3 linked regions of the Homo sapiens genome follow. The protein of the gene in region 1 purifies or fractionates together with the protein of each later gene. This does not show direct contact. Each region holds a gene or a part of one and is shown in the gene's direction. Other genes may lie near its edges. The genes, in order: BBS4, PJA2 and RAB3IP.

Evidence for each region.
Region 2: the proteins of BBS4 (region 1) and PJA2 purify together in Homo sapiens (affinity purification with western blotting, with the first as the bait; one study listed by BioGRID). This does not show direct contact.
Region 3: the proteins of BBS4 (region 1) and RAB3IP purify together in Homo sapiens (co-immunoprecipitation; one study listed by IntAct). This does not show direct contact.

The regions. Positions count from the first base shown.
Region 1 is NC_000015.10:72,689,057-72,692,710, forward strand, and holds part of BBS4 (BBSome complex member BBS4), read left to right. Parts: intron 1-3,654.
Region 2 is NC_000005.10:109,403,351-109,407,004, reverse strand, and holds part of PJA2 (E3 ubiquitin-protein ligase Praja-2), read left to right. Parts: intron 1-3,654.
Region 3 is NC_000012.12:69,759,305-69,762,958, forward strand, and holds part of RAB3IP (rab-3A-interacting protein isoform alpha 1), read left to right. Parts: intron 1-3,654. UniProt on the Homo sapiens protein: Guanine nucleotide exchange factor (GEF) which may activate RAB8A and RAB8B. Promotes the exchange of GDP to GTP, converting inactive GDP-bound Rab proteins into their active GTP-bound form.

The DNA.
Region 1 (3,654 bases):
AATTGACTTGGAGGGACTTCCATGGTGTACATTTAAATAAAAGGTAGATGTGAAGTGGGGTATATTATGTGATCTTAATTTCATAACACAAAGGAAAACATATAGATCCGTAGATAAGGATATATGGATATGGAGGAGAGAAAAGGAAAAGACTCAAAACTCACAGAATTTTTGAAGAAATGTATAGCTAAAAATCTAAGAAGGCTACAGTCAAGGCCTTGAGGCCAGAAGACACCCCATCAAAACTGAGTAAAACTAGCCCAGTGTGGGACGCAGAAATTCTAGTATGCTACCAAAATTACTTACGGATTGCTACCAGTTCCTTAGAAGGAAAACTGAGGACTAATATTTGTATTTTCAGTATAGTTTAGAATTCTTAAAAAATGAGCAAACAGGCTGTACTTGGTGGCTCATGCCTGTAATGCCAGGACTTGTGGAAACTGAGGTGAGAGGATAACTTGAGTCCAGAGGTTTGAGACCAGTCTGGGCAACATGTTGGAGCCCCATTTCTACAAAAAACACAAAAATTAGCCAGACGTGGTGGCACGCGCCTGTCTTCCCAGCTACTGGGGAGGATCATCTGAGCCTGGGGGAAGTTGAGGCTCCAGTGAGCCATGATCATGCCACTGGACTCCAGCAGGGGCAGAGTGAGACTTTGTCTGAAAAAAACAAAAAATGAATGAGCAACTAACTCTGGCTTTCATGATTTGTGCTTATAAATCTTTTTATTTATTTATTTATTTATTTATTTATTTATTTATTTATTTATTTTGAGACGGAGTCTTGCTCTGTCGCCCAGGCTGGAGCGCAGTGGCGCGATCTCGGCTCACTGCAACCTCCGCCTCCCGGGTTCACGCCATTCTCCAGCCTGAGCCTCCGGAGTAGCTGGGACTACAGGCGCCTGCCACCACGCCCAGCTAATTTTTTGTATTTTTAGTAGAGACGGGGTTTCACCGTGTTAGCCAGGATGGTTTCAATCTCCTGACCTTGTGATCCGCCCGACTCAGCCTCCCAAAGTGCTGGGATTACAGGCGAGCCACTGTACCCAGCCTATAAATTTTTTTTATAATGCCCTGATTCCCATTATTTGATGTATTTGGATAAATATGTCATCCTGTAAATTGAAGGATTAAACTGATAAGAGCAGAAAACAGAAATTAGTACACTAGTTGATCTGGCTCAGATATAGTGCCTATGTATCAGGTGCTCCATGAATATTTGTTGGATGAATAAATGATCATAAAACTATATAAAAATGAAGAAATAACAGAATAAAATAATTTGTTCTATATAAATCCTATGAATGAGATTGAGTGGGCTAATAGAATCCTTTCCATCTCAAAATGTTCTGGAAAGTCTTGAGTAAAAGACTCATCAAAAAAATAATTCTGCTTTGTGCAGAAAGAAGGGTTGCTGACCTTTGAAGGTGCTTTTTGAGTCTTTAACATTCTTTAGTAGTATATTCCCCAAAGTTAAGAAATTCTAGTTAGATTTTAAAAAATTGAGTTAACATTTAAAAAACAGTTTTGTTGAGGTATAATACACGTACCATAAAATTTACTCAATTTAAGTACAAAGTTTGATCAGTTTTAGTAAATTTATATAGTTGCACAGCTGTCATCAGAGGCTGCTTTTAAAACATGTCCATCACTCCAGAAGGGTTCCTGTGTCAATGGAATTGCTGGGTTATATTGTTTAAGTATTTGTTTAAAAAAACAGAAACAAATCTGCCTAACTTCTGCAGGCTATATACGAGTTAACATTTCCATGAGCAATGCATGAGGGTTGTGATTTTTCCACATCCCTGTCAACACTTGGTTTGTCAGTTTGTTTTTATTTAGCTGTTGTAGTGGATGGGTAGTGATGGTGTATGGTGGTTTTAATTTGTATTTCCTTCATGAATAATGATATTGAAGATTTTTTATATGTTTATTTTCCACCCGTATCTCTTTGGTGAAATGTCTTTATAAATTTTTGTGAATTTTTAAATCAAGATCATTAACCAAATGAGCCCCTCATTTGGGCTCAAGTGATCCTTCCACCTCAACCTCCCGAGTAGCTGGGACCACAGGTGCAGGCCACGCTTGGCTAATTTTTGTATATTTTGTAGAGGCGGGGTTTTGCCATGTTGCCCAGGCTGGTCTTAAACTCCTGAACTCAAGCAATTGGCCTGCCTCACATAAGTATTCTCTTTTATTTTGAGGATTAATTTTTGTTGTTGTGAAATATATCCTACCTGTAAAAGAGTGCTTAAAATGTCGTATGTGTGCTTTAAAGGATAATATAATGGAAACTTGTGTTCCTACTGCCCAGGTTAGGAAATGGGTTATTAATAACTTTGAAACCTCCTAAATGCCTCTCTCCTACTGCATTTTCCTTCCTCCACATCAGATGTAGTGTTTCTTCAATTTTATATTAATATTTTGTACTTTTTATAGTTTTACCATATATGTTTATATATATCCTTAATATATTAGTTTTTAAAATTTGTTATTAACCTTCAGTTTATTCATTATTTCAACACTGTATAGTATCTTATTGTAGTAAAGTATGTCAATTAACTTATCCATTCCACTAGATGGAGATCGGGATTATTTCTGGTTTTTAGTTATTAAAAACAATGCTGCTGCTGGGTGCAGTGGCTTACGCCTGTAATCCTAGCACTTTGGGAGGCCGAGGCTGCGGATCATGAGGTCAAGAGATCGAGATCATCCTGGCCAACATGGTGCAACTCCGTCTCTACTAAAAATACAAAAATTAGCAGGATGCGGTGCTGCGCGCCTGTAGTCCCTGCTACTCGGGAGGCTGAGGCGGGAGAATCACTTGAACCCAGGAGGCGGAGGTTGCAGTGAGCCGAGATTGTGCCACTGCACTTCAGCTTGGCAGAGCGAGACTTCGTCTCAAAAAAAAAAAAAAAAAAAGCTGCTATAAATATGGCCAAGACTAAGGAAAGGTAAGTGAGGTGCTTAGGGTTCACATTTTATGGAGTAAGAGTAAGTACCTTCTTAAGGTTTATACCCTAGGTTCTTCACATGCCTCACTTTAGTCCTAGCCCTGAGCATTATTATGTAGGTCTTCTGATGCAATATCTAAGAGTTTCTCTAAGGTATACCTAGAAATAGATTGCTAGGTAATGGAGTAACTTTATTACTTACAGGAAACTATATGGTGGTTGTAACAATTTATGCTTCTGCCACCAGTCATGGTGGATATGAAATTATGTCTTAATGTGATAATTTACATTGCAATTTTTTTTTTTTTTTTTTTTTTTTTTTTTGAGACAGAGTCTTGCTCTGTCACCCAGGCTGGAGTGCAGTGGCGTGATCTTGGCTCACTGCAACCTCTGCCTCCTGGGCTCAAGTGATCCTTCCACCTCAGCCTCCCGAGTAGCTGAGACCACAGGCGCAGGCCACACTTGGCTAATTTTTGTATATTCTGTAGAGGCGGGGTTTCGTCATGTTACCCAGGCTGGTCTTAAACTCCTGAACTCAAGCAATCGGCCTGCCTCAGCCTACCGAAGTGCTGGGATTAGAGGTGTGAGCCACCACACCTGGCTGTTTGTTTGTTTTGAGCCTGTTCCTCAGGCTGGAGTGCAGTGGTCCAATCATGGCTTGCTGCAACTCCGCTTCCTGGGCTTAAGAGATCCTCCCACCT
Region 2 (3,654 bases), on another chromosome or scaffold:
TTTTTCTTGCTATAAATTGGTATCATTTTGTCTAGAATTTCATGTAAGTGGAATGATGTAATACATACTCTTTTGTATCTGGCTTTTTCTCTTGGCATGTTTTTCAGGATTATCCATGTTTTTCTGTATTTAACGGGTTCTCATTTTATTGCTGAATAGAAGTCCTTGGTATTGATTTACTAGTTTGTTGACCATTCCACCTATTTACAGATACTTGGATTGTTTCCAGTTTGGGGCTGTTATTAATAAATAGCCTTCATTTGTTGAACATTCCTTTATTCAATGAACATTCATTTATTTTGAATTTTTGTGAACATCTTTTTTTTCTTGGTAAATACCTAGACATGGAACTTGTTGGGTTGTATGATACATGGATGTTTATAAGAAACTGCCAAACTGTTTTCCAGAGTGGTTGTCACATTTTACATATCCATCAGCAGTGTATGACAGTTCCAATTGCTCCACATCATCCTCAGCACTTGGTTATTTCAGTCTTTTAAATTTTAGCCCTTTTAGTGGGTATATAGTAGTATCATACTGGGATTTTGATTTGCATTTACCAGATGACTAATGGTGCTGAGAATTTGCTCTAGTGTATGTCTTCCTTTGTGAAGTATCTGTTGACATTTTTTGCTCATTAAAAAACAAACAAACAACAATGGGTGGGCCTGGCGCGGTGGCTCACGCCTGTAATCCCAGCACTTTGGGAGTCCGAGGCAGGCGGATCACGAGGTCAGGAGATCCAGACCATCCTGGCTAACACGGTGAAGCCCCATCTCTACTAAAAATACAAAAAATTAGCCGGGCGTGGTGGCGGATACCTGTAGTGCCAGCTACTCCGGCTGAGTTAGGATAATGGCGTGAACCCGGGAGGTGGAGCTCGCAGTGAGCCAAGATCGTGCCACTGCACTCCAGCCTGGGCGACAGAGCGAGACTCCGTCTCAAAAAAAAAAAAAAAAAAAAATGGGTTTGTCTTATTGAGTTGTAAGCATTTTTTAATACATTCTTTATACAACTCATTTGACACACAGAGATACATAAACACACACACACACTGCAATCTGAAGCTTGTTTTTTTTTTATTTTCCTAACTTTAAAAGAAGAGCTTTTAATTTTGATAAATTCATCTTACCAACTTTTTCTTATGATTTGTGCTTCTGTGTTCTAAGAACTCTTTGCTTAATGCAAAGTTGTGCAGATTTACTCTTAGGATTTTTCTATAAGTTTTCTAGTTTTGGCTTTCATGTCAAGGCACATTATCCATTTTGGGTTAGTTTTTGTATATGGTGTGTAGTAAGGGTCAAGGCTCATTTTCTTTTCAAATGTATATGTAGTTCTAGCACCATTTGTTGGGACTACTTTCCTTTCCCCATTGAATTAACTTTGTCAAAAGTCAGTTGATCATATATGTAAATCTGTTCCTGTACTTTTCTCTTGATCTTTATGCCTATAATTTTGCCAGTACTGAGTTATCATGGTTATTTTTACTTATAAGTATTGAAATTAGGTAATATGAATCCTTGAACTTTATTCTTTTTCAAAATTGCCTTGGCTATTCTAACTTTACCGTAAAGCTTTTAGAGGCTGCGTGTTGGTTTCTACAAAAAGACCTGAAGGGATTTTAATTTGGTTTGTGTCGAATGCATAGATCAATTTAGGAAGAATCGACATCTTGAGTCTTCCAATTCATGAATACAGGTTGTCTCCATTTATGTAGGTCTTCTTTCATTTCCTTTGTCAGCATTTTGTAGTTGCAGCATGAAGATGTTGCTCATTTTGTTGGATTTATATCTAAGTATTTAATAATTGATACCATTATAAGTGATAATTTTCTTAAATTTTAGTTTCCAGTTATTCACTGCTATATGTAAAAATACAGTTGGTTTTTGCATATGGACCTTGATGCTTGCAACCTTGCTAAATTCATTCATTTGAGTAAATTTTTTGTAGATTCTCTGGAATTGTCCTATGTAGACAATCATGTTATTTGCAAATATAGATCAGTTTTATTATTTTTGAATTTATATGTAACTCCTTCCACCTTTTCTTCTTCTTAGACTGGCTAAGACCTCCATTATGATGTTGAATAGCAGTGGTGAAAGCAGATATCCTTCTCTGTTCCTGATCTTAAGAAGAAAGCTTTGAATCTTTCATTATTGAGTGTGATAGAGTGGTGCTATAGCTTGAATGCTTATGTCCCTTCCAAAATTCATAGCATTGAAACATAATCCCCATTGTGAGGGGGATCTCAAGGAGGTGATTAGGTCATGAAGCTTCTGCCTTCATTAATGGATTCGTGTGCTTATAAAAGAGGTCCCAGAGAGCTCCTATCCCCTTATGCCGTATGAGAACACAGTGAAAAAACTGCAGTCTGTGAACCAGGAAGTGGCTCTCACCAAACGCTGAATCTACCAGCACCTTGATTTTGGACTTCCCAGCCTCCAGAACTGTGAAAAATAAATTTCTTTTATTTTTATTTCTATTTTTTTTTGACAGAGTCTTGCTCTGTCGGCTAGGCTGGAGTGCAGTGGCAGTCTCAGCTCGCTGCAACCTCGGTCTCCCAGGCTCAAGCAATTCTGCCTCAGCCTCCCGAGTAGCTGGGATTACAGGCGTATGTCACCATGCCTGGCTAATTTTTGTATTTTTAGTAGAGACGGGGTTTTACCATGTTGGCCAGGCTGGTCTCAAACTCCTTACCTCAGGTAATCCACCTGCCTTGGCCTCCCAAAGTGCTGGAATTACAGGTGTGAGCCACCGCGCCCAGCCGAGAAATAAATTTCTGTTGTTTATAAGCCACTTCAGTCTATGGGAGCTTGTTATAGGAGTCCTAATGGACTAAGACAAGTGGCCTTTTATCATATTGAGGATGTTCCCATTCTATTCTTGGATTGCTGAGAGGTTTTTGTTGTTGTTGTTGTTGTTGTTGTTGTTTTTGAGATGGAGTCTTGCTCTGTTGCCCAGGCTGGAGGGCAGTGGCACCATCTCAGCTCACTACAGCCTCCGCCTCCTGGGTTCAAGTGATTCTTCTGCCTCAGCCCCCTGAGTAGCTGGGATTACAGGTACACGCCACCAAGCCTGGCTAACTTTTTTGTATTTTTGTAGAAATGGGGTTTTACCATGTTGGCCAGGCTGGTCTTGAACTCCTCACCTCGTGATCTGCCCGCCTTGGCCCCCCAAAGTGTTGGGATTACAGGCATGAGCCACTGCGCCTGGCAGAGAGTTTTTTTTTTTTTTTTTTTTAAATCATGAGTGGATGTTGATTTTAGTCAGGTATTATTACTGTATTTATTGAGATGATCATATGGTTTGTTTCTGTGTTAATGTGATGAATTACGTTAACTTATTTGCGAATGTTGAATCATCTTCCATTCTGTGGTTAAACCTCACTTGGTGATGGTGTATTATCTACTATCATTTTTATAAATTGGTGAAATTTTTTTTTTTTTTGCATCTATGTTCATGAAAGATACTTTTTCATATAATGCTGGTTTCATAGAGTTGCAAAGTGTTTCTTATATTTTTGAAAAAGAATTTATTAGGATTAGTATTATTTGTTTTACAATTTTTTTTAGAGTTTGCATGTGAACTCTTCTGGTCCTAGAGTTTTCTTTGCTGGAAGGCTTCAAAGGATAAGTCCAATTATCCTTTAATAAA
Region 3 (3,654 bases), on another chromosome or scaffold:
AGGTCATAGATCAACAGCATCCCAAGGCAGAAGAATTTTTCTTAGTACAGAACAAAATGAAGTCTCCTATGTCTACTTCTTTCTACACAGACACAGCAACAATCTGATTTCTCTATCTTTTCCCCACCTTTCCCCCTTTTCTATTCCACAAAACCGCCATCGTCATCATGGCCCGTTCTCAATGAGCTGTTGGGTACACCTCCCAGACGGGGTGGTGGCCGGGCAGAGGAGCTCCTCACTTCCCAGAAGGGGCGGCCGGGCAGAGGCGCCTCCGACCTCCCGGACGGGGCGGCGGCCGGGCGGAGGCGCCCCCCACCTCCCTCCTGGACGGGGCGGCTGGCTGGGCGGGGGCTGAACCCCCACCTCCCGGACGGGGCGGCTGGCCGGGCAGGGGCTGACCCCCCACCTCCCTCCCGGACGGGGCGGCTGCCGGGCGGGGGCTGACCCCCCACCTCCCTCCCGGATGGGGCGGCTGGCCGGGCGGGGGCTGACCTCCCACCTCCCTCCCGGACGGGGCGGCTGCCGGGCGGAGGGGCTCCTCACTTCTCAGACGGGGCTGCCGGGCAGAGACGCTCCTCACCTCCCAGACGGGGTCGCGGCTGGACAGAGGCGCTCCCCACATCTCAGACGATGGGTGGCCGGGCAGAGACGCTCCTCACTTCCCAGACGGGGTGGCGGCCGGGCAGAGGCTGCAATCTCGTCACTTTGGGAGGCCAAGGCAGGCGGCTGGGAGGTGGAGGTTGTAGCTAGCCGAGATCATGCCACTGCACTCCAGCCTGGGCAACATTGAGCCCTGAGTGAATGAGACTCCGTCTGCAATCCCGGCACCTCGGGAGGCCGAGGCTGGCGGATCACTCACGGTTAGGAGCTGGAGACCAGCCCGGCCAACACAGCGAAACCCCGTCTCCACCAAAAAAATACGAAAACCAGTCAGGCGTGGCGGCGTGCGCCTGCAATAGCAGGCACTCGGCAGGCTGAGGCAGGAGAATCAGGCAGGGAGGTTGCAGTGAGCCAAGATGGCAGCAGTACAGTCCAGCTTTGGCTCGGCATCAGAGGGAGACCGTGGAAAGAGAGGGCGAGGGAGACCGTGGGGAGAGGGAGAGGGAGACTGTGGGGAGAGGGAGAGGGAGAGGGAGAGCCTCCAACTCTCCTCTTGCTCAGGATCCGTTTGGGGACTTGCTCTGTGTGTTCATTCCTTTGGTATTCATTTCTTCATGTGGATCCAGATTTCCAACTCGTATCATTTTTCCTTTGGCTTGAAGGACATCCTTTTACATTTTTGTTGTGCATGTTTGATGGTGATAAATTCTTTTAGCTTTTGTATGTCTGTGTTCATTTTTGGTTTTTGAAAGATATTTTCACTGAGTAAAGAATTTAAGATTGATAATTTTTTTTTTTTTGTTACTGTAAAGATGTTGCTTCAGTGTTTTCAAGCATGTACATTGTTTCTCACAAGAAGTCTGCTGTTACCCTTACCTTTGTTCCTCTGCGTATTAGGTCTTTTCTCTCTGGCTGCTTATGAGAGTCCTCTCTCACTGGCATAAGCAATGTGATTGTGATTTGCTTTGGTGTAGTTTCTTCAGCTTTCTTATGTTTGGGATTTATTGAGCTTCTTGAAGCTGTAGGTTGTTAGTTTTCATAAAATTTGGGAAATTTTGGCCTTTATATCTTCAAAAAGTTTTCCATTCTTCCTCTCTCTCTCCTTTCCTCTGGATTCCTATTACATGTACATTAGACTGCTTAAACTTATCTCACAGCTTGCTGGTGTTACAGTCTTTCATTTAAAAATCTTTTTTTCCTCACTGTGTTTCATTGTGGGTAGTTTCTATTGCTATGTCTTCAAAGTCACTACTCTTTTCTTCTGAAATATCTAATCTGTTAATCCCATACAGTATGTTTTTAAACTAGACATTGTAGTTTTCATCTCTGAAAGTTTGATTTGGATCTTTTTTATACTTTGCTTGCTCTGCTTAATATGTTGGGATGCAGTTTAATAAATGTTTTGTTTCTAATTATTTCATCTCTTCAGATAATAAGCTGGGGCAGATCTGGGGTGCACATTTTGTTTTTCATTTCTAGGGGATCACTGTCTTTTATTGCCTAATATCAAATGCTTCAAATTGTTGATCCATATATTTTTTCAGAGTTTTAGTTGTGTCAGATGGGTGGTAAATCTAATCCCTGTTCCTCTATCTTAATTGGAAGTGAAAGTTCTACTTACTCATTTATATTACTTCATTGTCTACCCCATTCAAGTAATCCACATAGAAAAACCTGCATTTATACACACATGCTTCAGTACTTCTGAGATTCATGAGGATAAGGATTGCATATGTTTGTGCTCATGATTATATCTTGAGCATATAATGGGTTTTCAATACATTTTGTTGATTAAATGAATATATACATGTATATGCGGTTATACAAGTGTTTGTATACACACATGCCTGATATATTAGGGTGATGCTTATAAGTAACCCCCAAATTTTCGTGACTTTACCTAATAGAAGTTCATTTTTATTCATTTAACACTCTGAAGCAGATGTTCATAGTTGGTAGGCAGTTCTCTGTGAAATAATTCAGAGATCTGTTTCTCTTCTGTTTGGGGCCTTTGTAATTTCTTAGGGTTTTATTGTTATTTGTATCTAACCAATGAGACAAAAGGGAAAGACAGCTTAGAGAAGGTACAGCTTCTTCTAAAAAACCTTGGCTTAGATATGATACACATCACTTTTGCTCACATTCTATTGGTGTGAACCTTTCATGCCAATACCTAGATGTATGGTGGGCTGGGTAATGTAATCCCTGGATGGACAACCACTTCCCAGCAACAAATCCATACTGTGTGTGTAGGGGGACCAATCATGTGGTCACTTATTTTCAGGTGCAGGGATGCCAGAGATTATGATGTAGTCATTTAGCTGTTTGGCCTTCCATAGGATATTTCTGAAGAGCAGCTTTTAGTGGAATTCTCAGGAGGAAATTGGGCTTTAGTGCATTCTTATTAAGTATAGATCCTTGCACTCTACTCCAGATCTGCTGAAATCAAATTATTGTGTTGAGGTTTGGGAATATGCATTTTCATCAAACTTGTTGATTCTTACATTCACTAAAAGGTGAAATCTGCTGTAAGAGGTTATTTTAAACTTTTATTTTTCTTAAAAGAAAATGAGCTGGGCGAAGTGGCTCACGCCTGTAGTCCCAGCACTTTGGGAGGCCGAGGCGGGCAGATCACCAGGTTAGGAGATCGAGACCATCCTGGCTAACACGGTGAAACCGCTTCTCTACTAAAAATACAAAAAATTAGCCAGGTGTGGTGGCAGACGCCTGTAGTCCCAGCTGCTTGGGAGGCTGAGGCAGGAGACTGGCGTGAACCCAGGAGGTGGAGCTTGCAGTGAGCTGAGATTGCGCCACTGCACTCCAGCCTAGGCAACAGAGGGAGACTCCGTCTCAAAAAAAAAAAAAAAAAAAAAAAGAAAAAAGAGAAAAAGAGAAAAAGAAAAAGAAAATGAAATGACTTAGAAAATAAAGCCCAGTAGGATAGCTTGCAAAGAGAGTCATTGAAAATCACATACTTGCACTAACCCTATTCAGTATTGGTTCTACTAACTGTAGCCAAAGACATTTGTAAACATTAACAAATATTTTTTTATG